4 linked regions of the Homo sapiens genome follow. The protein of the gene in region 1 purifies or fractionates together with the protein of each later gene. This does not show direct contact. Each region holds a gene or a part of one and is shown in the gene's direction. Other genes may lie near its edges. The genes, in order: CEP78, NAP1L4, KATNIP and LRRTM3.

What was found.
Region 2: the proteins of CEP78 (region 1) and NAP1L4 purify together in Homo sapiens (affinity purification with mass spectrometry; one large-scale study listed by BioGRID and IntAct). This does not show direct contact.
Region 3: the proteins of CEP78 (region 1) and KATNIP purify together in Homo sapiens (tandem affinity purification; one large-scale study listed by IntAct). This does not show direct contact.
Region 4: the proteins of CEP78 (region 1) and LRRTM3 purify together in Homo sapiens (co-immunoprecipitation; one large-scale study listed by IntAct). This does not show direct contact.

The regions. Positions count from the first base shown.
Region 1 is NC_000009.12:78,238,561-78,246,153, forward strand, and holds part of CEP78 (centrosomal protein of 78 kDa), read left to right. Parts: intron 1-1,462; coding exon 1,463-1,635; intron 1,636-1,731; coding exon 1,732-1,804; intron 1,805-3,135; coding exon 3,136-3,239; intron 3,240-4,901; coding exon 4,902-5,076; intron 5,077-7,593. UniProt on the Homo sapiens protein: Centriole wall protein that localizes to mature centrioles and regulates centriole and cilia biogenesis. Involved in centrosome duplication: required for efficient PLK4 centrosomal localization and PLK4-induced overduplication of centrioles.
Region 2 is NC_000011.10:2,966,778-2,974,370, reverse strand, and holds part of NAP1L4 (nucleosome assembly protein 1-like 4), read left to right. Parts: intron 1-2,127; coding exon 2,128-2,269; intron 2,270-2,836; coding exon 2,837-2,923; intron 2,924-4,436; coding exon 4,437-4,568; intron 4,569-7,593. UniProt on the Homo sapiens protein: Acts as a histone chaperone in nucleosome assembly.
Region 3 is NC_000016.10:27,733,789-27,741,381, forward strand, and holds part of KATNIP (katanin-interacting protein), read left to right. Parts: intron 1-1,706; exon of another isoform or gene 1,707-1,802; intron 1,803-6,252; coding exon 6,253-7,132; intron 7,133-7,593. UniProt on the Homo sapiens protein: May influence the stability of microtubules (MT), possibly through interaction with the MT-severing katanin complex.
Region 4 is NC_000010.11:66,927,580-66,935,172, forward strand, and holds part of LRRTM3 (leucine-rich repeat transmembrane neuronal protein 3 precursor), read left to right. Parts: coding exon 1-873; intron 874-7,593. UniProt on the Homo sapiens protein: Exhibits a limited synaptogenic activity in vitro, restricted to excitatory presynaptic differentiation. May play a role in the development and maintenance of the vertebrate nervous system.

The DNA.
Region 1 (7,593 bases):
TGATTATTGATGTATTTAAAAACAACCTGACCACTTGTCGTGTGCCCGGCCCTTTTCTAGGCTCTGGGGTTAGCACCATCTCTTCTGCAAGGACAGTTCAACACATCTGCTTCTGAAAATAAGTCAGATTATTCTCTACATCTCATTCAGGTGCAGGAACTGTTCTGTACCTCTGAATGGACTTTAGTTAACCAAAATAATATCAGGAACCAGGCCAGGTGCGGTGGCTCACACTGGTAATCCTAACACTTTGGGAGGCCAGGAGTTTGTGACTGGCCTGGGCAACATAGTGAGACTCCTGTCTCTACAAAAAGTAAAAAATATTAGCTGGGCTTGGTGGATCTCTTGAGCCCGGGAGGTTGAGGCTGCAGTGAGCCATGATTTTGCCACTGTACTCCAGCCTGGGTGACAGAGCAAGACCCTGTCCATGACCCTCCCCCTACAAAAAATAAAAAAACCAGGAACCAAAATAAATTAAAGATGGGAGGGACCTCAGAGTCAAGGCTAGCCTACTAGATCTTGCCTAATATTTTGCACTGAATGTAAGAAAAATGTATTACAGACCATTCTCGTCAGATATTCTTCACTGAACCTTCTTTATCTCTTGCATCTAGTGGGTCTAGGTTGTAGATTTTAACCTCCTACATATTGCTTGTCCATCCTTAATTACATTTTGCCTGGACTATTGCAGACGCTCCTAGCTAGTTTTGCTGCCGTTGAGCTTGGTTTTTCTCAGTTCATCTGCCTACTTTGGTTCAAGTGATCTTTCAAAAAGGAAAAGACATGCTTAAAGTGGCATGCCCACGCAGGACCAGTGTGTATTGGTTGCTTGTGTTCTGCACAGAGGCACTGAAATCTCAGCTGTGTTCTGTTAAGCCTCCTGGGGTTAGTTGGTCTTGAGGAAGGGGAGCTTTTTCTCATTTCCTTTATCTCTTTGATACTCCAACAGTGAGGCACATTTTTCTAACCTGCTAGGGGTATCCTTAATGTGTCAGTGGTAGCCCTGATCCTCATCACCTGTGAGGTAAAAGTGAACTCTCCTAGGCTTGCTTCTCCCTGCCTCTTTGTAAATTTCTGACTCTTCCGGCTACGGCTCTGGGCTTTAGTCGGATCCACCTGCAGTTTTCCAGTGCCCGGCAGGTGTCAGGCTTAGATGCCTTTGCTCTCGCTGCTCCCTCTGGTTAATGCATCACCCACTCTCACCCCATGTTGTCATTCTCATCTTTCTAGATTCAGCTTCAGGATTATCTTGAAGCCATCCTTTCAGTGCAACTTCTTTGCTTCCATAAGAACCTCTATGTACATAGTTTGGTATATCCCATGTGGCTTGAGTTTACATGTGTCTGTGCTTAAGAGGACTTTAAAGGACATGGCTCATTTCTATGTCTTAGCACAGAGCAGATGTTTTTGAATGATACATTGTATGATTGAAGTCACTAACTTTCTTTTATCTTTGTTTTAGGTTCTGACATGAATAAATTTTGCAGAAGTCGTGTTCCTGCGATAAGATACAAAGATGTGACCTTCCAGTTGTGTAAAGCTCTTAAAGGCTGTTTAAGTATATCAAGTGTGCTAAAGAACCTGGAGCTAAATGGACTAATTCTGAGAGAGAGGGATTTAACTATTCTAGCAAAGGTAAGCTTTGTCTCATTTGGCTTGTAGACATTTGATAGTTGCTTTTAGAGGAAAAAAAACCTCAATAACATTTTTAACTTTTCCCCCTCATTAAAGGGATTGAATAAATCGGCTTCTTTGGTGCACCTGTCTCTTGCAAATTGTCCAATTGGAGATGGAGGTTTAGAAAGTGAGTTTAAATCTCATTTAACTCTTGTCCTATCAGGCTGGTTTCATGTTTCCCTACATGCCATGTTAATTCCTGTCTGTACCTTTTTTCTTACTACTGCCTCATATGCTTGTTCAAACCTTGGTCCAGTCTCAAGTCTACCATGAAAGCTTGGCATGCTGAATGTAATCTGAACTAACTTTACTTAAGTTTGTGTTAAACCACAGACCACACAAATATATACCATCTGGTATTCTCTGTTTTTTGTGTTTGTTCATCTTTTAGAGTTTTTCTTCAAGAAATATTTATGGGAAGGAAATAGCAAAATGTAAAGAGGCCGGGCGTGGTGGCTCACGCCTGTGATCCCAGCAATTTGGGAGGCCGACGTGGGCGGATCATGAGGTCAGGAGATTGAGACTGTCCTGGCTAACATGGTGAAACCCCATCTCTACTAAAAAAATACAAAAAAACTCACCAGGCATGGTGGCGGGTGCCTATAGTCCCAGCCACTCAGGAGGCTGAGGCAGGAGAATGGTGTGAACCTGGGAGGCAGAGGTTGCAGTGAGCCAAGATCACACCACTGCACTCTAGCCTGGGCGATAGAGCAAGACTCCGTCTCAAAAAAAAAAAAATCATCATTACTTTAAATAATTAAAACATATATACAATCAATTTTAATGCACTGTGGTATGTTCCAAAATAGGAAATATAAGCAAAGTGCTGTATAGGAGCATATAAAAGGCTGACAGACTTGGGGGGAAAGGGTTGGGATCATGGAAATAGTCACAGAAGGTGACTGTTCGTTGGGATCCTGAAGTCTTGTGTTCGTTGTGTGAAATAGTGGTCTGGAGGGGTAAGGAAACCTGCATTTCAATTTGAGGGAGCAGAGAGTTAAAAGGCCTCTGTCTTCTATTGTTCTAGTACATTAGGTGCTCTAGTATAACACCTAATAAAATTCTGGGTTTATAGTTGACACTGAATTGTTGGTTAATAACAGATTGAGGTCTGCTCTTGGAAATGAAAATAGGAAGAGTTTTATTTTTTTTATGTTTTTCTTTCAGATGTCTCAAAAAGTATATAGAACTTTACTGTGGTCTGGAGTAAGGTTGCAATATTCAGTCTATTCAATTTTGGCATCTAAATAGAATTGAACTATTGCAATAAACTGGAGTAACTCTTTGTTACTGACTTATTTTAGAATGTACCAATCAGTTGCTTAGGTAGATTGTAAATAGTGATTTTAAGAATACAACTATAAAATAGAAAAGATATAAGAAGAGCAAATAAATCAAGACTGACTAGGTTGTATATGCTCTTCATCTTATTGTATGTGGTTTTTTTTTCCATTTTAGTTATTTGTCAAGGTATAAAGAGCTCTATCACTCTTAAGACAGTCAACTTCACAGGATGTAATCTGACATGGCAGGGAGCAGATCACATGGCCAAGATCTTAAAGGTAACTTTATGTTCCAACTTTCATGAAAATGTGTTATATGATTGCCACACGTTAATATTTTGATACAAGACAGCAGTTATTTTTGTCTTTTGATACATATGGGCATTGCAGTTTTAGTTTTGTTTAAAGAATGTGACCAATTTTCAGCCTGGGGTTCTACCATTTATTAAAGGTAGTATGCTTAATCTTAGAAATAGAAGACCTAAAATATAATAATTAGATTTTTCTGTAAATACAGTTTGTAAAACAGTAATTTTAAAGGTGCCTTAACAACTTTATAGTGGTTATTACTACTGTATTTAGGATAAAATTACATAATAATGTGACATGAAGCCTTTTTAGTAATTTGATGGTGTAGATCGGGGTAGTCAAACTATGGCCTGTGGACCAAATCTAGCCTATCACCTATTTTTGTAAATAAAGTTTTGAAACATAGTCATGCCCATTTGTTTACATATTAACTATTGCTACACCCTACACTAGGAGAGTTGAGTAGTTGCAAAAGAAACTATATGACCCACAAAGCTGAAAATGTTTATTTTGGGGCCTTTACAGCGTAAGCCCACTCTCCGTGGGATAGATAATGGTTACTCATGTGGATTCTGAAGCCAGATGGCCTAGGCTAAAACCCGAGCTCTCTCCCATTTAATAACTTGTGACCATGGGCAAATTAGTTAACCGCTCTGTTCCTCAGTTTTCTTATCCATAAAATGTGTATAATAAGAAAACCTACTGTGTCTGTCATTGTTAGGATTTAATGAACTAATGTGTATAAAATAGTGCCTGGCTATCTAAGTGTTTGCTGTTATTTCCTCTTATTGCTTTTATACAGTTATTATGAATAGCAAATGACACTGACAGTTTTCATTTGACGGAGTCATAGGAGCTTTGAATCTTTTGTTTCAGAATGTAATGAGATTTTTTTTTCTCTTAAAATCAGTGTTTCCTGTTACCGAAATTTACTTTATGGATAAAGAGAAGTGATTATGTCTGTAAGATAATACCTGTGGTTAAAACTCAAACCACCAATTTCCGAAGGCATATCAACCTTGCTTTGTATATTCTAGGCCTCTAAATTTGGTGTGCATACCCTAAGAAATATGTGAGATCCCTTGGGTTAGGAGAAGAAAATATTAACCTCTATATTTTTGTATCATTTAAAAAATACCTATTGTTTCTGTTTGATTTGTAATATACATAAAATATGTATATAGAAATTCCTGTATATAGTTTATTAATAAATAACTTACATGTTAAATGTTTACTTGTGGGATGTCCAGTCAAGTGTTTAGAGACCACTGGAGGACAGAATGATATGATTTAGAGGCTCAGCAATGATAGAATTTAGAACCAGTACCTTCACTTGGCATATAAAGAAAATAAAATTCTTAGAAGTTAACTAAGTTGTCAGTTTACATAAAGCAATCAGTAACAGGTCATTAGTGGTTAGGGTCACATAGCTAGTCAGTGACAGACTAGTATCTGGGTCACTGGACTCCTTACTCAAAATCTACTATTTAATCAGTCTGTCAGATTAACCCACCTGGCATATGTACCTGGTGTGTGTGTAAAGCTCTGATGTAATCAGCTGTACTTAGTTCCTTTTAGTGTTCCTATCTCTTTATCCAAGTGTATTAATTTCATCTTATTAAATCTTTGAAGTATCAGACCATGAGAAGGCATGAAGAAACCTGGGCTGAGAGTCTTCGCTATAGGAGACCTGATCTTGACTGTATGGCTGGCTTAAGACGTATCACACTGAATTGCAACACACTTATTGGTGACCTAGGTGCATGTGCTTTTGCAGACTCTCTCAGTGAGGATTTATGGCTGAGAGGTAAGTTAAATGAACTTGTAAGGTGGAAAATATTGAATTTTTTGATATTAAATATGCTTAACTCTTGGCACAGTAATGTTGTCCGAAGGTTTTTTAAAAAGCCTCTTTTTTCTAATAGGTTTTATTTTGTTTTTAAGCCTTTATAAAAGTTATATATATTCTTTATAGAAAATACCAAGTAACAAAAAAAAAAAAAGTACATATAATCTCAATGCCTAGAGATAAACTGTTCATTTTGGTGTATACACTTTCAGTATTGTTTTTTCCTGCAGATACATTTGTGTGCTTAGAGTTACAAGAACAGAACTATAGTGCACTTACCATTTTGTAACCCTGCTTTTTTTATTTAATGATGTATCATGTAGTACTCTATTATATTGAGGCATAATAGTTTAATTCCCTACTATTTGATATTTAGGCAGTTTGTGCTTTTCCCCTGTTATAAACAACTCTGTAGTAAACTCCTTATGTATACATCTCTGTGTCCATTGAAGTTACTTTTTTTTTTTTTTTTTTTTTTTGAGACAGGGTCTTTCTCTGTTGCCCAGGCTGGAGTGCAATGGTGTAATCATACCGCGCTGTAGCCTTAAACTCCTGGCTCAAGTATCCTCCCACTATACCCTCCGAGTAGCTGGCACTACAGGTGCACACCACCATGCCAGGCTAATTTTTGTGGAGACAGGGTCTTGCTGTGTTGCCCAGGCTAGTTTCAAACTCCTGGGCCCAAACAGTTCTCTTGCCTTGGCCTCCCAAAGTGCTGGGATTCCAGGCATGAGCCACTGTGCCCAGCCTGAAGTTACTCCTGTAGGATAAATTACTAAAGTTGAGTAACTCAGTATAATGTATTTCTTAAAGACTTTTGATGCATGTCACCAAATTGCCTTTCAGAAATGCTGTGCCATATTATAGTCTCATAAATGCTGGATTGTGTCTATTTTAAAACCTTAAACTTTACAAAAATGAGAACTCCCCTGCTTTTTCTTTTTTGATGCAAATGGGATTGGTCTCTGAATTTTACAGCTTTTTTCACTCAGTCTAGCATATCTTAAATCAGTAAGTTTACATTTACCATGTCATTTTTAGTGACTCTTCAGGGTTCCATTATGTTAATATGCAATAGTACACTTGGCTTATCCGTTCCTATTAGATATATAAGCTATTTCCAGTTTTTCATTGTTATAAACAGTACTTTGATACGTGTTGTTGCCCGTGTCTCTTATAATTTCCTTCTGGTAAATTCTTAGAAGGAGAGTTGCTGTGTTAACAGAGTCTGCACATTTTAAAGGTTTTTTTAAAATGTGACCTTCGCCAATCTGATAGAAGCATAATCACATTTAATTGTTTTAGTTTATATTCATTTGATTTACTAGTGAGATTTACTGGCTATTTTTATTAATTTGGCTAGGTGGATAATTACATCCTATGCTCATTCTTCTGCAGCAAGAGTTTGTAAAGGTTTTACCATATTCTATCAGATCCATATATCTGACTTATTTCTGTGTGTCTTGTGGTGTCTTAGTCAGTTAGGGCTTCATAGAATATTCTATATTATATATAGTATATATTATATAACTCCATTATAGAAGCATATAACAGAATTATATTCTGGGTGGCTTAAAGAGAAGACATTCATTTCTCACAGTTCTGGAGTCCGAGAAGCCCAAGATCCAGATGCCAGTAGATAGGTGTCAGGTGAGGGCATTCTCCCTAGCTTATGGAAGGCTTTTATATCCTTAAATGGTGGCGAGAGAGAACTCTAGTCTCTTTTTTTTCTTGTAAGGACACTAATCCCATGATGGCTCCACTCTCAAGACCTCAACTAAACCTAATTACCTCTCAAAGGCCCCAATTCCTAATACTACTACCCTGTTGTGGATTAGGGTTTCAATATACATTTTTGGGGAATACAGACATGTAGTCCATAAAATGAGATTCTGAAAGACTTCAGTTATTTTAATGTAATGGTATACACGTGCTTTTGCTCTGATGTAATCTTTTTTTATGCCTGTACTTTTGTGATAATCCTTTTGAGTTGAAATGAGTAGATTGTTCAGCCTCAGTATTACTAGTATTCATGAGCATTTGTTTAGTTCTTTGACCTTTTACTTGAGAGAGAGTTCTTGACCATTATTTTTTCATGATAGGTTTTTAGTATATAATCTCTATAATCTCTATTCACACATTCTTTGGATTCATTATTTCTATCTCCTTAGAGTTCTTTCTTTGTCATTTTTATTCTAAAACTAACAGTTTACATTTTTGTATTTTCTTTTCACTTTTTTAATGTAATTTTTTGAGAGTCACTTGGAATTTGAATTTGAATTTGATGATGAATCTAGTGCAATTTCTGAGCTCCACCCAGTTTTTGCCTGTGATGTTTACACTGCCACTAGCATCCTTGTTAATTATGAACAAATATTCATTCTGTGATGTTTTATGTAGAGTTATTTTTCAACTCTGTAATTGTAAAATATGTTGGGTAATTTATTGGTACTAAAGGGAGGGTAATCATGACAC
Region 2 (7,593 bases), on another chromosome or scaffold:
AGAAGTGGTTCCATATTAGCCATATTGCAGGAAAAGTGCCGGCAGAGGGCTGGGTGTAGTTGGTGTGAATGATTGAAGGACTGTTGGGGGCACACTAGGGTCCAGTTTGTTTAACATCCTTTGTCTAAATGACGAGTTAATGGGTGCAGCACACCAACATGGCACATGCATACGTATGTAACAAACCTGCACGTTGTGCATTTGTACCCTAAAACTTAAAGTATAATTAAAAAAAAAAATCCTTTGTCATTTTACTTCAGTTGGAAAGCTTCAAAAATTAAACTAATTTAAAATTGTATAATTAGCCAGGCATGGTAGCTCACACCTGTAATCCTAGCACTTTGGGAGGCCGAGGCAGGCAGATTGCTTGAGCTCAGGAGTTCGAGACCAGCCTGGGCAACATGGTCAAACCCCTACTCTACAGGATGCAAAAAAATTAGCTGGGCATGGTGATGTGCCCCTGTAGTCCAACTATTCAGGATGCTGAGGTGGGAGTATCATTTGAGCCCAGAAAGTTGAGGCTACAGTGAGCCGAGATCGCACCAGTGCACTGCAGCCTGGGCAACAGAGTGAGATCCTGTCACAATAAATGAATGAATGAATGACCAGTGCAGAAAAGGGGTAAAAATGGCAGTGGGAGTCTACCATTTTGTTAAATTCTTTCTGCTTTTCCCTTTTTTTCATCTACTACTAGCAGTAGTTCTAGAATGTTAAGCATTATTTGAGAGTCTTTGCTTAAACTAAGGACCTTTAGCTTGAGGTAGCTGTGGTTGTATTTCACCCAGGAGAGTGGTCCTTTGGGATGCAAGGCAGTTGTTCTAATACCTCCCAGACCAGTGATATGTGTGTGTGACTTGCCTACTGCTCTGTGCTGTCTGTTGTTGGAGGGTAAGTCAAGTGCTTAGACTTGAAGACTCTGATTGTGTGAATGAGTATTCAAGATGCAGGACCCAGGGCCCTGCCCCAGGTAGATTATTTGGGTCTATGATGAGGCCAGGAATCTGCTGTTCAGTCCACATGATTGTGACCAGGGGCTTCGTTTTGAACAAATAGTTTTGATGGGTTAAACAAGGATTTTTCTTCTGATTTATAAAAGTTATACATAACAACTATTTTTTAAAACATAGAACAGAATTGAAAGGCAAACTCATAGTTGACCTGACTCTCCAGGACAAAGTTGTGTTGCCTGTGGTCTGTGTTTCTCAGATTTTTTCCTCCAGTGTGTTAACAAGTGTGGATTCCCACGTGGCACTAAATATTCCTGGACAGTGTGATTATGAATAGGCCATATTTGAATGCTGTTGCACTTGCATTGTCCAGTTTTTCACTTGTACAGATCTATCGACGGACACTCCAGCATAAATACTTGATTAGGATAAATTTTTTTTTTTCCTTTTGGTAAGATAGGGTCTTGCTCTGTTTCCCAGGCTGGAGTGCAGTAGCGCAATCATAGCTCCCTGCTGCCTTGACCTCACAGACTCAAGTGATCCTCCCACCTCAGCCTCCTGAGTAGCTGGGACTACAGGCGCACACCATCATGCCTTGCTAATTTTTTAAAATTTTTTTGTAGAGAGAGGTCTTGCTGTATTGCTCAGGCTGGTCTTGGAGTCCTGCCCTCAAGCAATCCTACCTTGGCCTCCCAGAGTGGTGGGATTACAGGCATGAGCCACTGCGCCCAGCCTTAAGGATAAATTCTTAGAAATAGAATTACTGGGTCCAAAGAACATTTTCAATATTTCTGCCCTTCAGAAAGATGAGTCAGTTAGAGGGCTTCTTGGCCCTTAGCCTCGTAAAACCTGGGTGTTTTGTTTTGGTTTTTAATTGCCAATTTGGTAAGGAAAAGCTGAGTGTTCTTAAATGTTTGCATTCTTTTGGATATTTTATGAAATTGAATCTTTCTTCATGTTTGACAATTTGTGTTTTTTCTTTTGTGAATTATTTTTTCTGCTTCCTCCTGTATCCTTTTTTTCCTGTTGGGGTATTGTCCTTTTCTTAATTTTTAAGAGGTCTTGTTCATAGTAAGGATGTTGATTCCATGTTAACCTAAATTTATTTTAATAAAATTGAAAAGCATGCTGCTTTATTTTGCAGGCATGAGGATGTTGTATTTCTTACTCCCTTTTTTAGTTTACCTAAAGCAGTAAAAAGAAGAATTAATGCATTGAAACAACTTCAGGTGAGATGTGCTCACATAGAAGCCAAGTTCTATGAAGAGGTACATGACTTGGAAAGAAAGTATGCAGCGCTATACCAGCCTCTCTTTGACAAGGTAGGGAGCTCTGTTAATTTAATATACAGATAGTTTTCAGCTTACGAAGGTGTTAGGTTCCGATAAACCCATTATAAGTTGACAACATCTAGGGTAAGAACGCATCTAACCTGCCAAACATAGCTTAGTCTAGACTACCTTAAACAAGCTCAGAACGCTAACATTAGCCTGCAGTCAGGCAAAATCATCTTCCACAAAGCCTATTTTATAATAAAGTGCTGAGTATCTCGCGTAATGTATTGAACCCTACACAGAGAGAGGAACACAGTGTGGCTGTATTGGTGCCCAAAGTGTGATGGCTTCTGCACCATCAGGAAGTTGAAAATCTTTAGCTGAACCATTGGAAATCGGGGACTGTCTTTATTTTACATCTTTAGGTGAAACATCCAGGTTTACCCAGGGAATCATTTAATATTTTTCTTTGAACCCTAAAATTTAGAATCTTAAAATAAGTTATAAAAATATCCAGTTTTCAAAGTCTTTTAGTAGACATTATTTATAAATTTAACTCTTGAGTTCCTAAGTAAGCTAATAACATAATTCTAATAAGGTCTCATTTTTATGTAGAGAAGAGAATTTATCACCGGCGATGTTGAACCAACAGATGCGGAATCGGAATGGCACAGTGAAAATGAAGAGGAAGAGAAATTGGCTGTAAGTCTTTAGAAACATGTGACTCATGTTCTGTTTTAATACTGTTAAAAATAAGCATTTTTTAATGATTTTTAATGACTAGTAAACTTATGTGCTTCTAACAGTAGGTGCTGCTGCATCATTAGGTTGGGTTTAGATTCCTTTCTGATATGGATCTAGCATCTGACACAGTACTGTCAGTTAATAGGAGTAAGATGTAGTGCCACCTCAGTTATCTGTGGACAGGAGCATATTGAAATAAGGGATCAGACCAACAAAGATTAAAACATCAGAGAAAGCAAAGATGAAGAAGAGATGCCCCTGTGTTCTCAGTCACTGGAAGATTGGGGGAGTTGTGAGGGGAGTGCCTTCCTGCTCAGTGGCATGGACTAGCTTGCCCCCTGAGAGGTGCTCCGCCAGTGGATTGGTTGCAGATGGTGGTTGTGGTGTGGCCATCAGTCACCTGCTCACAGCCTTTTTCTAGTGACTGGTCCCATTCCAGTGCTGTGAAAACTCCCAGTGTACCATGGATTAACTTTGTCAGCCTGATTTTATGTTTGGGAGACAAGTAACTTTTATCCTATAACTAACTTTTTGCAGTTTTTTTTTTGGGGGGGGGGTGGTATATGATGATTTTGGTAGCCATATGTGTTTTTGATGCTTTAAAAATATATAGAACCTGGCCTAATTGAAGCCATGGCTGTGGATTAATACAGTTGTGAATCAGTTTCTAACAGCTCAAGGGAAATCTGCCTTTGCTGATTTAAAAGGCCTTTCATTTCAAGATCATTTCATCATAACAATCCCGTTTGGCAAGGCATTCAGAATTTCCCATAGTTGCATCTGGTGTTGCGTTTCACCTCCCTTGGTCTACCTTTTCCCTGGGGCCTGACTCCCCTTCCTTTTGCCATGTGGCCTTTCTGGTCACTTTCTGATGCTTGCGTGGTGTCTGAGCTGGCATTTATAGCCACTTCCTTACAAGCTGGATAAGTTGCTGAGCACTTTCTTGCTGCAGATACTGCTGCGGCAATTTTTTTTTTTTTTATTTCAACTTAGCACCCCACAAATTTTAACAAGAGGTCAGATTATTAGTCCAAGTGAACTTCTTTATCCTTGCACTGGACTTTTTTTGCCCAGTGCTAGATGTTCTGCATATTTGCATTGCATCTCCTTAAGGTTGATGTACAGTCTTTGCATCTGCATTTGTGATGATGATTGTCTCAGGATGGCACCTCACAGAGCTAGCACTGGATGGCCTTTCCCAGCGTCGGTGGCACTTTGTCATCTCTTTAGTTTCTTCGCCTTTGATGTGAAATGGTACGGAATTCCGTGTGGATGTAATGACTTGAATGCTTTTTCCTCAGAAGCATCTGAAAAGTGTCGCGTGGCCCAGTGAGTGGTTTGGAGGTGCAGACTTAGAAAGCAAGGTGTTTGATGGGAGATAGTAGAGGATTCGGCAACGATATTCTACGTGAAGCCGCTGCATTGTTTGTAAACTTTTATTTTCGTTACCTATGTTGCATCTTTTTTTTAGGGAGACATGAAAAGTAAAGTAGTCGTCACAGAAAAAGCAGCGGCAACGGCTGAAGAGCCAGATCCCAAAGGAATTCCAGAGTTCTGGTTTACCATCTTCAGAAATGTGGACATGCTGAGTGAATTAGTCCAGGTAAGCACACTTCTGTCTTGTAGAGAGATTATGTGCTAGTCTTCTAACATTACTTATCTATGGCATTTTTTAAGCACTACACTGGGCATTGAAAGATTGTTCATAGTGGGCGGAAGGGCACTTTCTCTGACCAGGACCTCAGATGAGCAGTCCTGATCTCACAGTGAATGGTTTATTCACAGTGGGGCTTCCATGCTGTCTTTTGCAGTTCTTGGTGGAAAGCTGGGCGCTTCAGCCTGATCCAAAACTTTCAAATCAGTTCCTTTTACCTCTTGTAAAGCTCTGTTGTCTTGCCTGTGGGAAAGCCTATGAATAGATTCCAGAGCCCATCTCTGTCTTCCTGTGGTGTGAGTGTGCAGGAAAGGGTGAGGGCAGGAGACCAGAGCAGAATGAATTTTGAAGGGATGAGCTGTGTGTTTGTTTGTGTGTGTGTGTGTACACACACATCTCAGTGAATTTTTGAACAAGTTGCTAATATTTTCTGATCATTTCTCTTGAAAAAGTGTCTATTTTTTTTAAAAAAAGAGGCCAGGCATGGTGGCTCATGTCTGTAGTCCCAGCACTTTGGGAGGTCAAGGTAGGCAGATCGTTTGAGACCAGCCTGGGCAGCATCGCGAAATCCCATCTCTACAAAAAATAGAAAAGTTAGCTGGGCGTTGTGGTGTGCGCCTGTGGTCCCAGGTACTTGGGAGGCTGAGGCAGGAGGATCACCTGAGCCGAGGAGGTTGAGGCTGTGGTGAGCTGTGATCACGGTGCTGCACTCCATCCTGGTGGGTGACGAGACCCTGTCTCCAAAAAAAAAAAAAAAAAAAAACAACACAACAACAAAACCCAACCACCATTTCTGATTTTGTCTTGCCTTGACATTTCACTTTCTGTAGTGAAATGGTGAACAAATTAAAAGGTAACAAATTTGGTTTTCCCTGAAATGAGTTATAATAGAAGTTTCTAGAACAGAGAAACAAATCTTGCCTTAAGTCTCACTGACTGACTTGCCGTCAGTTTTTATTGCTCCAGCGTCCCCAGAAACAGCACGTCTGCATTCAGACTTGCTCAGGACAGCTGCAGGCTCTGCTTGTGTGGGCAGAGTGCTTCTCCCATCACAGAGCATAGGCACTGTGCGTTGCAAACTGCTACATTGTAATTTGCACAGGATTTTACAGCTACGGTTTTTAATGGTTTTCACAAATGTATCACATTGCTGCCTCTGCTACCTCCCTTGTTTAATGCTTGTCCTGTGTCCTAAGCCAAAACTTGAGAAAAGATGGAAAGAATGATGTATTTCTTATTCTCCTTCCAGACCAGAAAGCATCTAAAATAGAACAGCCTTGGTTTTTCCTGATCTGAGCTTCCTTTTCATATGAAAAGGTGGAATTTAAGAAGACTAGACCATACTTTTAAAAGAATGCCATGCACCAGAATTTCATTGGAAAAATTAAGTAATGTCTACCAGAGCCGTAGTCTCACCCTGTGTATTACAATCACCTGAGCAGCTTTGAAAACTAAATAGCAAAAACTAAATGCCTCATCTGTCACCATGGCACTGAGAGTTTTGAGTTGGTTTTAGGAACTCTAATGTGCACCCTGAGAGTTGAAAATCTCCATGGCAGGGAGCAGGTGGAAAGACTAGCTCTTAGTTCGTTCTTCTCAGACTTCGGGGGGCATGGGGAGTGGCCATGGCAGTGCGGATTCTGGTTCTGTGGGGCTGTCTGGCTCATGGGCCCTGGGGTGATTCTTGCACTGCAGGGTTGGAGCATCTTCACGTGGGATTGGGGGTGCAGTGATAACAGGGTTTGGGAGCTAGAGTTAGGTGACTTGAGTGAGTTTTGGTGTCCCCTTCTGTGCGTGTGGCCACCTGGTTATGGCATTGGGGTCACTGGCCATGGATAGTGCTGCCTTGGGTTTTGAGAGCACAGTGAGGCATTTGGCCACATTTTAAATGGGGTGTCCCTTCTCATTCTCCCAGCACCTCTGTAGTAGTGTCAGTGCTTCAGCATTTCAGCCATGAAGTGTCTTTTGTTGCTTTTTGTTTTAACAGCTTTAAAAAGATATGCAGGGGTTGATAGAGTACTCATTTAATATGCAGAGAATGAGGAAATGTTATTTGTACTGTTTGTAACCTCATAGCAGGTAATGGTAGCATATTCTATTTTGATTTTTTTTTTTAACAATATTTTCTTTTTTTTTTTTTTTTAACGGAGTCTCGCTCTGTCGCCCAGGCTGGAGTGCAGTGGCGTGATCTTGGCTCACTGTAAGCTCCACCTCCTGGGTTCACGCCATTCTCCTGCCTCAGCCTCCCGAGTAGCTGGGACTACAGGCATCCGCCACCACGCCTGGCTAATTTTTTTATTTTTAGTAGAGACGGGGTTTCACTGTGTTAGCCAGGATGGTCTCGATCTGCTGACCTCATCATCCGCCTGCCTTGGCCTCCCAAAGTGCTGGGATTACAGGCGTGAGCCACCGTGCCCGGCCAACAGTTGTTTTTTAATGTCTGGTTTTGAAGTCTGCCATTTCTGAGAGAAGCCCTTTCATTTTTAAGGGACATGGTCTTGCTATGATGCCCAGCCTAGAGGTCAGTGGCTTTTCATAGGCACAGTCAGGACACTGCTGTCTCAGTCTCCTGGCCTCAAGGGGTCCTCTCGAGTAGCTGGGACTGTAGATATGCGCCACTATGCCCAGCTCATTTTGGTCAAATATTAAATTCCAAAGGCGGATTAACTCTGAGTCCCTTTGTTCTAAATTTGGGGATAGTTGAAATATATTTCTGCAAGGAGAGTGGAAAATTTGAGATGGTGGCTTTACGATCTGAGTGCGATGCCTCCAGTGTTGTGCCTTTGCTTCCTGAGTCTGAGCGTCTGCCAGTGTGGGGCATTACCTTAATATTTGCCCTGGACATTTAAAGTTTTGACCCACAGGGTACATGGCTGCTTGAGGAAATTAGAACATAATGGTTATTTTATGAAGTTTGGGAAAACATGAGTGGGCACTGCGTCTTTGAGTGGGATGAGTTTGAAGTCCCAGTGCC
Region 3 (7,593 bases), on another chromosome or scaffold:
CTTTCGTAAAGATGTCCTTTATACAGAGCTGCACTGAGGGGGCGCAGAGGAATCCAGACTCGCAGAATCTTCCATCCTGCTTTCCTCATGGGGCAGATGTGACTCTCATACAGCCTCTAAGCACACCCTTGTGGTATAATGACACTTATGCGGTATATACGTAAATATGTAGAAAAATGTCTTGAAGAACTGGAACCCACACACATACGCACACCCACCACCCAGTGGAGGTGGAGGTGGGGGCTGGGGTGGGGTAGGAGACAGTTAGTCTATAAGGACTTATTTATTATTATTATTATTATTTTCTTTTTTGAGACAGAGTTTCCCTCTTTTGCCCAGGCTGGAGTACAGTGGCACAATCTCGGCTCACTGCCACCTCTGCCTTCTAGTTTCAAGTAATTCTCCCGCCTCAGCCTCTCCAGTAGCTGAGATTATAGGTGCCTGCCACCACGCCTGGCTAATTTTTGTATTTTTAATAGAGACAGCGTTTCTGGCACCTCTGCAGAGCGGTCTCAAATTCCTGACCTCGTGATCCACCTGCCTCAGCCTCCCAAAGTGTTGGGATTACAGGTGTGAGCCACTGCGCCTGGCCCATAGGGACTTATTTAAAAAAAAAAAAAAAAAAAAAGGCCAGGTGCAGTGGTTCATGCCTGTAATCCCAGCACTTTGGGAGGGCGAGGTGGACGGATCACCTGAGGTCAGGAGTTTGAGACCAGTCTGGCCAACATGGTGAAACCCCATCTCTACTAAAAATACAAAAAATAGCCGGGCGTAGTGGCGTGCCTGTAATCCCAGCTACTCGGGAGGCTGAGGCACGAGAATCGCTTGAACCTGGGAGGCAAAGATTGCAGTAAGCTGAGATCACACCACTGCACTCCAGCCTGGGTGACAGAGAGAGACGTCTCAAAAAATAAAAATAAAAATTTAAAAAAGGGTAGGGGCTCAGAGCTCCACCGGTACAGGTGCTCCTAACAGTGGCTAGGCTAGCATGGGCCAGGACTGTGGCTTTCTTGGAATCTAGCTTGACCCACAGAAAGATGGTGGTTAAGACCTTAGCATGCCAGCCATAGTGGCTTACCACATACCAGCTGTGTGACCTTGGGGAAGGCATGTGCCTCAGTTTCTCCATCCATAAGATGGGGCCCTAATGCTTCCCTTGCAGGATTGTTCTGAGGATGACATAGGACAAGGCAGTCTGTTATCCTTTAAACAGAATATCCAGAGAAGTGACTAATATTCCCTATGGGGACCCCACTCTGGTGATCCTTGGGCCACATCTGCCCATGAATGTGGCTTGTTTGGCCTGCAGAGTGCTGGAAACCTTTCAGAGCTCAGAGCTGCCAGGCAGGGTACGACCCTCCCACCTCCCTGTGACCCCTGCATACCACTGATTTCCACCTGAGCCCACTCCTCTCTTACAAGCCTGACCCCTGCCTCCGCCTGCTTCCCTCTCTCAGTTCCCTCTCCGCCAGACGTCTTGGTGGGAACAGGGCTGGAGGTCAGATGGGCTCTGGACTGGGGAAGGAAGATGGGTGGCCATGTTGTGGAAGCCGGCCACCCTATTAGGAAAGCTAGGATGCCCACCTTGTGACTGTGCTGGACTAGATGGTTTCCCCATCACCCACTACCTCTTTAAAGGAAGGTGTTTCTGTCTCACCAGATATCCCTGTGGCAGTAATTTTGCAGAACCAGTCATTGAAAACTGCCCATGCTGTCCTTCTCAAATAGCTGTTCCCCGGTGAATTCACAGCACGCACTTGCTCTGTGCCTCTGCTAAACAGAGAATCCATCCATATAAGCAGGTAAAAGAGTGCTTTGAGAATCGACTTTTCTGACAGTCGGCAAATGGTAGCCTGCCATCTGCAATTGGAGGATTGAAGCCGAGTTCCTGTGGCGTAACGCAGGCCGGACAGTTCTCCTTCTAAATTGCTGCGGAAACCTCTGTAACTCAGTGATCCTGAAATTTGTTAGCTCCTACTCACCTAGCTTTCAGGAAGGCTAAGAAGGGGTTAGTATAGGTGAACATCTCCAGGGTCTCAGATTCTGTCTCCCAAGAGCAGATCAGAAGCCAAGGCAACACGGGAAATAAACGATCTGGAGGTGAAACCCACAGGCCGCCGCTTTTCTGATCAGGTTCATTCTTAGAGCACTGTTGAGACAGCAGTGCTGTTCAGGAGAGAAAACCCATGTTTATTCATTTGCTATTCCAAAGTAATTTATTTATTTATTTTGAGACGGAGCTTCACTGTCGTCACCCAGGCTGGAGTACAATGGCACGATCTCAGCTCACTGCAACCTCCCCCTCCCAGGTTCAAGTGATTCTCCTGCCTCAGCCTCCCGAGTAGCTGGGATTACAGGCTCACGCCATCATGCCTGGCTAATTTTTGTATTTTTAGTAGAGACGGGGTTTCATCATGTTGGCCAGACTGGTCTCGAACTCCTGACCTCAGGTGATCCATCCACCTCGGCCTACCAAAGTGTTGGGATTACAAGCATGAGCCACTGCGCCTGGCCCAAAAATAATTGTTGGGTGGCTACAATGTGCCCTTGGACAAGACGGGCAGGGCTTCAGCTGTCTTGGAGCCTAACTTTGAGTGGGAAAAACAATAAATAAGTTAAAAGCTGATAAGCAAGACCATTCAGAGACTAAAAGGAAATAAAACAGGGCAATAAGATAAAGAGGGGACCGATGAGGTGGGGCTGCCCTAGAGGTGTGTTCACTGAAGGTCCTGAACAGAAGAAGGAGCAAGGCTGTGGGCATCTGCGGCAGAACACGCCAGGCAAGTGCACAGGCTCTAAGGCAGGAGGAACAGGCTGAGCCACATCAAGGAATCGAGGCAAGCGCCAGGAGCCGGAGTCAGAGAGGTCAGCAGGCACCCCTGAAGGGGAGTAGGATTTCTTGTCAGTGCCATAGGAAGTCACTGGGCAGCTTTAAGCAGGAGGCTCCCATGATCTGATTTCAGTTGTTAAAAAAAGACTCACTGCTGTGTGGAAAATGAAGTGAGTGCAGGGTTTGGGGGAGACAGCCCAGAGTGGAGGCAGAGAGACCAACTAGGAGGCGATGGTGGTGTCTCTGGGGGAGACCCTGGTGGCCCAGGCAGCAGCACACGCGGGCAAGGAGGTCAGCTCCAGGGCGTGTTCTGGAGAGAGAGCCGAGGGACGTGCCCACATACTGGATATGAGTGAGAAAGTGAGAGGGGACGAGGGGACGGCAAGCTTTTTAGCAACCGCTCGAATGATGGACCCATTTTTAAGATAGTTTAAGACTAAGTGTGGAGAAAGTGATTTCAGAATTCTGTTTCAGGCACACCAGGCACATTGACTCACACCTGTAATCCCAGCACTTTGGGAGGCCAAGGCAGGAGGATCCCTTGAGCCCAGGGGCTCAAGACCAGCCTGGACAACATAGTGAGACCCCGTCTCTACAAAAAAAAATTTATTTTAATTAGCTGGTCGTGGTGACGTGTACCTGTAGTCCCAGCTATCCAGGATGCTGAGATGGGAGGGTCACTTGAGCCCAGAAATTCAGGTTGCAGTGAACCCTGATCGAGCCACTGTAACGCCAGCCTGGGCAACAGAGCAAGACCTTGTCTCTTAAAAAAAAAAGAGAGCATTCTGTTTTGGGCATTTTATATTGGAATTCCTGTTAGATATCCAGGAAGAGAGGCCAAGCAGTCACTTGGGGCTTGGTGGAGAGGTCAGGGTTGGAGATGAAAATAACTGGGAGCCTGGGACCTGAATGAGACCACCTGGAGAGCAAGGGAAGAGCACTCGGGAGGCCTAGGACTGAGCCCTGGGCAGCCTAGTCGTTCAAAGTGCAGCCGAAGAAAAGGAAGCAACCCAGGAGTCGGGCAGGCTCAGCCAGCGAGGCAGGAGGAAAGCCAGGTGGGTGCAGAGCCACACAAGCCCCAGGGAGGAAAGTCATCGCAAAGGAGGGGAAGCTGCCGAGTACTGCCGAGCCGCCACACCCACCCACTCCTAGGAGAAATTCCTATTGCGTATGGCAGTCAGCTGGACCCTGTAATTTACTTTAGGAACCAGACACTTCTGAGAGTCATTAGTAATGACACCAGGATAACAGATATAAATCAGAATTGTCCCAGACAAACTAGGATGGCCCGTCACCCTAGTTACAGGTGCCCGGGCCAGGTGGGTTCCATGTGGAGGTGGAGGCAGAAGCCCAACGGGAGGAGGAACAAGGGGTAGTGGGAGGAGGAGCCCACGGGGACAGTGACACTCAGAGATTCACTGACGGGGTGACGGACAGATCATGCGGGGGGCCCTGCAATGGAATATTCCTTAGCAGTAGAAAGGAAAGGAACTATCAGTTCCCATAACACAGGTGAATCTCAGAGCAGTTATGGTGACTGAAAGAGCCGAGCAAAAAAGACTACATGCAACATGATTCCTTTATGTAAACATTCCAGAAAGGACGATCAGTATATAGGGAGGGACCATAAGTGGGTGGTTGCCTGGAGCCAGGGAAGGAGGAAGGGGAGACAGGGGTTACCAAGGGGCACGAGGAAACCTTAGGGTGATAGGTACGTTTGTTCTCTTGAGTGTGATGGCTTCATTGGCGTAGACACATGTTAAAACTGATCAAGCTGTACCCGTTAAATATGCACAGTTTATTGTATGGGGTGTGTATTCTATTCCCCGATAAAGCTGGAAAAAGAGTTTTGCTGTAAAGAGGATGACACAAGTGAAACAGTAGCAGGAGATGTGATTTTATCTTAAGCATGGAAGGAAGAGAGTTGAACCTGCGTGACATAGGGGCATTTAGGCTGGCAGTGAGAGAGGAGAGCGAGGTGGGGACCATTTGTGAAGGTTACTGTATGTCATGTGGAGAGCTTTGGAATTTATCCCATCATCGGCATGGTTCTGCACCCCGTCGTGTGAAGAAATCATCCGGAGAACTTGTTCTGAGTCCAGAAGTTACCTACAGGCTGCCTTGAGGCAGTGGTCCTCACACGGCATCCTCCTGGCTCCCTTCCAACTGCAGCTGCCGTGAACATGGGACAGTCCCCGCATGTGGACAGTGCCCTGCCTCAGGTGCTCGTGGGGTGCTCTGCCGTGGGAGCACACTCAGCTCGTGCATGTGTTGGGGCATCAGTGCCCTGAGGGCAGCCTTCAACAAGCAGTGGATAAATGTCCCAGTCTTGGAGAGACATTTGCGACATGCATTTAAGCAGAAGACTCCCATGATCTGATTTCAGTTAAAAAAAAAAAAACTCACTGCTGCATAGAAAATGAAGTGTGAGTGCAGGGATTTGGAGGAGACAACGCAGAGTGGAAGCAGAGAGACCAATTAGGAGGCGGCAGTGGTGTCTCTGGTAGAGACCCTGGTGGCCTGGGCAAGGAAGGCAGCAGCACATTCCAGGTAAAGAGGTCAGACCCAGGAAGTGTTCTGGAGAGAGAGGCGAGGGACAGCTGGCGGATTGGATGGGCAAGTGAGAAAGAGAGGGATCAAGGGGGCCACGAGGTTTTTGGCCACTGCTTCAATGATGGAGCCATTTTTAAGATAGGTGAAGACTAGGGTTGGGGAAAGTGAGATCTTGGAGTGCCGCAGAGGGCCCCCGTGGGAAGGAGCACCAGTTGGCCACAGCAGTGACCAGCTCAAAAAAACTGGGTTTTTCCTTTTTCCTGCCCTATCTTGCTTTCCCCATTTCCTCTTGGAATCACCTGCCAAATACTCGACTTGCACCCGAGTCCTTGTCTCAGCCTCTGCTTTTACGGTCTCCCAATTATGATGCCCACGGAGGCCAGGAAAGCTGTTTTATAAGCACTCCAGGCTTTTCGACGCAGATGGTCTCAGGAACTGGACTTTAAAGAACACTGCTATAGGCTGTGAAAAAACATGAAGGATTTCACACAGGGGAATGACTGGACAGATTTGCTCTGGTAGGAAATGAACTCTGGTGGCAATGTGAAGTCCAAGTTAAAGTAGCAAGAGACAGGAAGCAGGGAGACCCATTAGTAGGCTATTACGAATGTCCCGACAGGAGGTAATGATGACGAAGGCAGCGATTGAGGCCGTCTCTTTGTGAAAGTCCTTTGATTTATAGAGTATGTAGCGGTTCCCACAGAAATGAGACCAAGCCTAGTTTCACACCCCCAGCACTGTGGTTTTCAAAAGCTTGCATTTCTAGCATTTCACATTTTCTTTTCTTTTTTTGGTATCTTCGACTTCCAAAATTTCATACATCAGTCTGATGCTATGCATCTTCACTTTGTTAAATCTTATGGTTTCAGGATCTTGACATTGGTGCCAAGAACGTGAAGCTTTACGTCAACAGAAACCTCATCTTCAATGGCAAGTTAGACAAAGGAGATAGGGAGGCCCCAGCTGACCACAGCATCCTGGTTGACCAGAAGAACGAGAAGAGCGAGCAACTAGAGGAGGCCATGAACGCTCACTCGGAAGAAAGCAAAGGCACCCATGAGATGGCTGGTGCCAGCGGGGACAAGGAGCTTGGTCTCGGTTGCTCACCGCCAGCTGAAACATTAGCGGATGCAAAGCTTTCTTCACAAGGAAATGTGTCTGGCAAAAGAAAGAATTCTACTAATTGCAGGAAAGACAGTTTGTCCCAGTTAGAGGAATATTTGAGACTGTCGGCAGTCCCCACTTCGATGGGTGACATGCCCAGTGCTCCTGCCACTTCCCCACCTGTGAAGTGCCCTCCTGTCCATGAGGAGCCCTCTCTCATCCAACAACTGGAAAACCTCATGGGCAGAAAAATCTGTGAGCCACCCGGGAAAACCCCATCCTGGTTACAACCTTCTCCCACCGGCAAGGACAGGAAGCAGGGAGGCAGGAAGCCAAAACCCCTCTGGCTTAGTCCCGAGAAGCCCCTGGCCTGGAAGGGCAGGCTCCCATCAGACGATGTCATCGGTGAGGGTCCTGGAGAGACCGAGGCCAGGGATAAAGGCCTACGGCATGAGCCAGGGTGGGGGACCAGCCGGAGTGTCAACACCAAGGAGAGACCCCAGAGGGCAACCACCAAAGTCCACAGTGATGACTCAGACATCTTTAACCAGCCCCCCAACAGAGAGCGCCCTGCTAGTGGGAGGAGGGGCTCAAGGAAGGATGCTGGCAGCAGTAGTCATGGGGACGACCAGCCAGCCAGCAGAGGTAAGCTCCAAAGAGCAGCCCGACTTGGGCATCATCATCCCAGCCCCTCTAATTGGCATGAAGCCAGTTAGCTCCTGGACCTCAGTTTCCTTATCTGCACAACAAGATGGTTGTTCTCAACTAAGGGTCACAAAATCACTGTCTCAGGGGCCAAAGAGATGCATACATGAGTGAAATGGGCAAGACACATTTTGCATGGTAAATTCATAGATGTATTTGTCATTGCCACCAAGGTATGTCCCTTTGCCCATTTTTCTTGCAACACATGGCTTTTCCAAGCCATTTTCCAAAAGACTTTGTTCTCCTGCCTTTCATAGAGACATCGGTCTCTAGTCACTTCACTTTATCCTTAACTGTACTGTTAGAAAAATAGCTGGGTACAGTGGCCAGGCCTGTAATCCCAGCACTTTGGGAGGCTTAGGTAGGAGGATCGCTTGAGCCAAGGAGGTCGAGGCTACGGT
Region 4 (7,593 bases), on another chromosome or scaffold:
CTGGCCCTTTTTCCAAGGTTGGTCAGCCTTCAGAACCTTTACTTGCAGTGGAATAAAATCAGTGTCATAGGACAGACCATGTCCTGGACCTGGAGCTCCTTACAAAGGCTTGATTTATCAGGCAATGAGATCGAAGCTTTCAGTGGACCCAGTGTTTTCCAGTGTGTCCCGAATCTGCAGCGCCTCAACCTGGATTCCAACAAGCTCACATTTATTGGTCAAGAGATTTTGGATTCTTGGATATCCCTCAATGACATCAGTCTTGCTGGGAATATATGGGAATGCAGCAGAAATATTTGCTCCCTTGTAAACTGGCTGAAAAGTTTTAAAGGTCTAAGGGAGAATACAATTATCTGTGCCAGTCCCAAAGAGCTGCAAGGAGTAAATGTGATCGATGCAGTGAAGAACTACAGCATCTGTGGCAAAAGTACTACAGAGAGGTTTGATCTGGCCAGGGCTCTCCCAAAGCCGACGTTTAAGCCCAAGCTCCCCAGGCCGAAGCATGAGAGCAAACCCCCTTTGCCCCCGACGGTGGGAGCCACAGAGCCCGGCCCAGAGACCGATGCTGACGCCGAGCACATCTCTTTCCATAAAATCATCGCGGGCAGCGTGGCGCTTTTCCTGTCCGTGCTCGTCATCCTGCTGGTTATCTACGTGTCATGGAAGCGGTACCCTGCGAGCATGAAGCAGCTGCAGCAGCGCTCCCTCATGCGAAGGCACAGGAAAAAGAAAAGACAGTCCCTAAAGCAAATGACTCCCAGCACCCAGGAATTTTATGTAGATTATAAACCCACCAACACGGAGACCAGCGAGATGCTGCTGAATGGGACGGGACCCTGCACCTATAACAAATCGGGCTCCAGGGAGTGTGAGGTATGAACCATTGTGATAAAAAGAGCTCTTAAAAGCTGGGAAATAAGTGGTGCTTTATTGAACTCTGGTGACTATCAAGGGAACGCGATGCCCCCCCTCCCCTTCCCTCTCCCTCTCACTTTGCTGGCAAGATCCTTCCTTGTCCGTTTTAGTGCATTCATAATACTGGTCATTTTCCTCTCATACATAATCAACCCATTGAAATTTAAATACCACAATCAATGTGAAGCTTGAACTCCGGTTTAATATAATACCTATTGTATAAGACCCTTTACTGATTCCATTAATGTCGCATTTGTTTTAAGATAAAACTTCTTTCATAAGTAATCCCCCACATTCGCTGTTAGCCTCCTGGTGGGACCAAATCTACAGTTATAGAAGGTTTGCACCTCACTGGCAAATCAAGGAAAGAGGTGAATGATTCCAGGTGCTCGGAGCTTGAGCTGATTCTTGGAGATGACTCAGTTATGGGAACATTTTACAGACAGGCAGAGCCTTTAAACCAATGCCTGACTTAGAAAAGAAAATTGCAGGAAACTATCAAAAGATGGTGCTAGGTTAAAGCAGCACCCTGAGCAGTTTCCAGAGGTGTCTGAATTACAGTAAGGCAAGCACAGGGACAAAGTGATGAAGGGTTAAAATACTGCAAGCAGACAACTGCAAAATGTGAGGAGATGACAAAAATGTAAAGTTTTCGACTCAGCCTTGTCTCTGAAACCCATCTCTGTAAAATCAGACTAGAGGTTTCACTGCCAATTTCTTCTAGCCTGTATGTTTCATAAATAAATAAATGAAACAGCATTGAGAAGCCAGATTTCTCCACCACACCTCACATTAGTTAGGGAGTTTTCAGATAAGGTTCGCGAATGGGAAAGCAGCTTGCTACAGGCATGTGGTTGAGAGCTTACCAGAATTTCTCTTTCCAGTTTTTTCGAAGACCCTAATGTAGTTAGTAGAATCCTTAGCTCTGTCCTGTTCTGTTCAGAATTTGTCAGGCTGCCCTGTTGTGTTCCATTACATGTCCTGCACACACCAGTCCCCTAATGACAGACACTTCATTCAGATGTGTAAAGAGAACACATTCCAAGACGTGCCTTCCACCCACAGCCTCATTGAAAAGGACGACTTTGATAACACCTTAATAAATGTATAAAACGAATCTTAGAGGAAAAAAGACCAACACTATGACAGTTCTCTGTTGCTTTTCTATTGCTGACATTACAATGTCCCTGCGTTCATCTGTATTGTGAACTCATCCATCAGTACAGTTCTGTACAGACCCTGTTGGCAATCTGCAAGCTGCATGCATGTTTTTATGTCATTGGTGAAAGTTTATTGACTGCAGCACGAATATCATAGCTTCCATATTTGAGTAACTTGAACCACAGTCAATTAAGGTTTTTAGAAAGATATATTTAGTCTGTATTCTCCTTCATCCTCCAAAATGAACAGTTCTATTATAGAAGCAAATATCAGGAACTGCAACATTGAGGCTGTTTCATTTAATTTGGCTTGCCAACCCCTACATCTTTAACCATGTCCCTCTTCTCTGAAAACAGAATCACTGCAGCAACAAAGAAAAAGTGAATGGCTATTTTTACTAATTTTTTTTTATTGTTTGGGGGTTTTTCATATGCTGAGAGGAAAAATCTAGGCAAGTCACCATAAAATAAAATTTTAAGGATGCCAGATCATTAAAATCATACTTTTATAAGCAATAAAGAAAAAGAAATAGTTAAAGTGGATTTCTCAAGGTACTTTGATATTGATTAAATCTTACAATAGATGCCACTTCAGAAAAACATCTTAGTTACAATGTTTACCCATGAATAATTGTTGAATATACATGTATTCATGACAAAAAGTCACATATTTCCAATGGATTAATAATGCAGATACTTCCTCACAGCTTACTGGATGACTGAGCTTATTGTGATTTTTTTACTGAAGTTGTAACTTTACATTTTTCATAAAGCATCAGTAAATACATATTCCATCTTAAAAAGAAATTTTCTTTGGCTAGCCTCATTTTTATCTGTACTAAAGATGTTTGTATTAATGAAATGCAGTCTTAAAGTGAAGAACCCCATTTCTATTCTTTTTCACTTAACCTTCTGCCTTACTTGTGATGGATACCAAATATATTTAGGCAAGGAATACTTATATTTTTGAATTATTGCAAATTCTCAATGCCATGGTGCTACTAGTATATATAAAATATGCTTGCTGTATTGAAAAGCATTCCTAAAATTCAAAGCTACTTGGAATATAAAATATGATATAACACTAAATGAATCACCAATATTTTGAAAGCTGTCACTTTTTAATGCCTAACTTTACTAATAAACATAATAATAGATAAGAACGAAAATAAAATCCCTTAGGTGGTAAAACTCATTTTGATTTGGGACATGAAATTATGGGAAAAAAGTTCTTTCTTTCTCCTCACTCTTTGAGAATGAATCTTCTGTAATTCTCAGTATCTTCTGAGCACAGATATATAATTCTTGTAGATTTAATAACTAGTTTACCACTGTAAATTTTAAAACGCCAACTGCCAGTCTCCTGCTCAAAAGTTGTTGCCTCACCTCCATCCCATGGTACTTTCTGGACTACATATCATAAATCTATTTGTATAAGTATTTCAAGTTCATGCAGATTAGAGAAATGTGATTGATATTTATTTTTCTAGTACGTATTTACATAAAATATTGGACTTCCCTCAAAGGTGACAACAGTTAAAAAAAAAAAAAAAAAAAGCCTGACCTGTTGAACTATACAACAGAACACAGAATACTTTGCTTTACCAAAACAGAGAAGAAATGGGATTTAGTCTCTAAACTTCATGTGAGTTTTTTTCCATTTTTATTAACCCCAGTACACATAGTGCTACCACAGCATGTAGTTAAATAGTCCCAGTGCCACAGTCTTGTAAGCAATACTTATGCAAGATATATTGCATTGAAATGAGTTTGTATTTTCCAAGGACGTTGACATTACATCTTTTCAAAGAATTTAAACAATTTTTTACTTGATTTGGTGAGTGAACTACCTAAGTAGACAGGCAGTAAATTGTCTTTCTATGGAGCAGCAGTGACCTCTAGTGTCTGGTTAGACTAACCACAGCTATTCACACATTTTAGCTTTTTATCCTGAATCCTTATGTAAACGTGGTTTACAACATGTTTTTTGACTAGTAAATCAGATTTGAATTTTATTTAATTCATTTCCTTGGGAAATATAATTATAATGTAATTTTTGAATGTTATACTTTTCATTTTGACTTTTATAGTAATGCTGGAACAGAGGCCATAGAATTGGTACTGAAGGCTAGAAATAAGTGTCCAAGATGAAAAGCGAGTAATAACGCAATAAGAATAGATAAGAAATATTTTAGAGTGCTTATACTCATCGATGCTGGCTAAGCATTTTGATATTTTTATTAAAGGGGTTAATATTTTTCATCAGCAAGATACATGTAATTTAGGTAGGAAAAACAAATTTTAATATTATATCAAAAGAGTCAGCATCAGTCATTTACTGGTCAGGGATATGTCAAAGGTGTCAAAGGAGGGGGGCCTCCCCTTCCGGCTTTAGAACTCTCCAGTTTGCTGATTGTGCCAGTGACCTGTGCTTTGCCTCAGCGCTTTCTCCCTCCCTCCCCCTTTTCAGCCAGCTGAACACTGGTTCTATTAGGCTCTCTGACAATGATGTTACAGTCTAAGAGGTGATGATTCATGGATAATGAAATTATGCTCTCCTTCTGGGGAAGGATAATGCAGAGTCAGATTCATGGATTTGGCAAGAGGTTTTAGGATGCTGTAGGTGCATGAAATATCTCTTCTTCCCTTGACATTTACCAAAATGAGAACTCAAATCGTTTATTTAAAGTGTGGATTAGACTGCATCAGAAACAAGCATCAGGTCATGAAGCCTGAGATAAAGTGAGTTCCAGACATGGCAAGTAAGAATCGAGCCATGAGAAATAAAAAATTCAGAATCTGTGTTGCTTCATCTATTCCTTTTTGCTCTGGATTCTCATTAGAATCCAGATCTGTAGCTAACCCACGGAGTTTTGCTATTGTTGTATTCTCCTAGCTACCTACACTAAAAATCAGAGGCAGTTGGGGGAAACAATGAGCACAACAGAATATATAGGTAAATTTGAATGACACAAGTTTTAAGAGAAATAAAATGGATGGATGTTAAATAGTTTGTATCAAATAGCTCTAATTAAAAATGAATTAAAGAAATAATAATAATACATAGGTGAAAGTCACTGCTTTCCTAATCATAATAGCCTACAGAATTGGACCCAAATTCTTTTAGCCTCCAAAAGTTGGTGATGATTTTGGATACTTAATACTACCAATAAAATCTAAATAACAATAATTTATGATTCTTTTGCATTTGAGGGAAATATCACAGCCAGGCATGGTAGAATACGGGCCTTAGAAATTAAGACCTAAATTCAAGTTCCTTTGACACTTGCTAATCAAGTCATCACAGGTACATTTCCTGGCTTTTCTGAATTTGAAGTTTCTCATATGTAACACAGATGTGTACTATTGACTGCTCATGGTAATTGGGAGGACGAAATGTGAAAAGTACTTTGTAAACTCTAAAATGGCAACTACCTCTTCTTTTCAAAAAGCCCTTAGTGAGATACTGAGTGGGGTTTGTTGTTCTATGTTTGGCATGAGCCAAAAAGAAATCAGTAACCTCCATGTTACAGAACCCCAAGCCCATTTTACATCATTAGAAGTCTAGAACATCGTCTTTGACTTTCTGTTTTCACATAGGCACAGCTTCTTCCACCTCATGTTATCTAAGTCTATGATTTTTATACTGATTATCACAATGTACAACAGACATAAAGACACCGACCAGCGAACACTAAAACAAATAATTATCAAACACATTGAAAATTCTACTTGTATTTCAGATCAGGCAACTATAGCAAGGGCTTTCAATCAGGACGTTTACCTGTCCACTCCCTTTCTAGTATCATTGTGTTCAATCCTTGTTGACTTTACACTGGATCAATATAATGTTTATATGGCAACATGACATCATTATTGAGCAAAAAGTAATTGCATATAACATGTTACTGTAGGATTAGCACGCATTCCAGGTATCAGTCACATGATATCTGCTCTGATGTTTCTCCCCTGGCCACTCCAGTGGAAGACTGTGCCCAAGATCTCCTCTTAGTATAGAAATTACTATTGACTTTATCAATTATAATTATTGAAAAATCACTGGATAAAAAGGGGTATAAATGTACAGGGACTTCCTTTTATATGTCATTGCTTATGCAAAATTACATCATTAATTCATCAAAGAATGACAAAAGGCTTCCTCCGCTGGATGTAGCTGCTCTTACCAATATGAAGTAGCAGGTGTATTTTCAAAATGTTTGTCATTTAAGAAGACACAGACTGTTCCTCTTTGACAGCTGAGTTCCTATGGCATATCTAAAGATCAGAGAGAGGATGATGGTTTTTCAGGTGGGGAAGCAGTTGTGAGTTTTCTGACATTTTAACTTCATAGGGTCATGAATGGACGCTCTTGAGTTAGGGATCCTGAACACGTGAGGAAAATTCCAGGAACACAGAGAGAACAGGAATATCTGGGACATGATATAAGACCAAGCAAGTACAATGTATTTTACAATTATACTTTCTAACAACAGAACTTCTATAAGCAATAATAATCCATTTTATTGAAAAAAAAGAAAAACAGCTTCTATCTTATCCTTTCCAGCAAATGTTGTAATGATAATTAATAACTTTATTAACAATTCTCCATGTTTTCTTTTTATTTTTAAGGGCTCTCACTTCTCCCAATCAGGATTCTCATTTATCCTTTCTCTCACTCTTAAATTGTTCTCCTTATTTGAAAGAGTCTGTAATTCCTATATCACCAAAAAATGTCTTCCTTTATAAACCAACACAATTCAGTCATTTGGCTCAAAAGAGCAGCATTATCTCCAAAAGAAAAGTTACACACTTGCATTAAATATTAGGACATAAAACAAATTTAAAGCTGGCTGACACTTCTCTTTCCTCTACAATCTATAAAACACCTCTACAGTATATTATGATTTGCAATTGAAAAAACAGGATATATAGTTGAATTACAGTCTTACAAAGTATTAAAGCTTACTGTTTTCCTCCTTAATTAGCTAATTCCTAGAAAACAAAGTATAGGACTTTATGTATAGGGGTACTCAACTATATTTCACCAATCAGAAACACTCTTTCCAACAATCAGAATTTTGTCTTCTCAAGGGTAAAATATAGTTTTTTTGGCCTGGCATATAAAATAGTAAGGCAAATACTACATTTAGCAAAGGCAATTTTTGTTGACATTTCATCACATCAATTACATCTATGCAGGGTGGAAAATACATTTTGTCAGTAAGGAGGCAATGACTTCAATTAAATGTAAATCCTTAGTCAGCATTCTTGGTGCTAAAGCTTATTAATGAAGTGGGAGCAGAATGAAAATGTCATCAGACAGTGAAGCTACAGTATCATGAGGCTATGCTACCTTGAGTGGTGTTCATAGCTTCAACTGGGTGGCCCTCATGTAGCTAAAAAAGTGCTCCTTGTCATTAATATTGATCTATGTACTTTCTAAAAGAAAGAATATGCTTACCAACAGAGCCCTCATATTGACTGTCTTCCTATAAGTTTCCCTCATTAATATTTGATG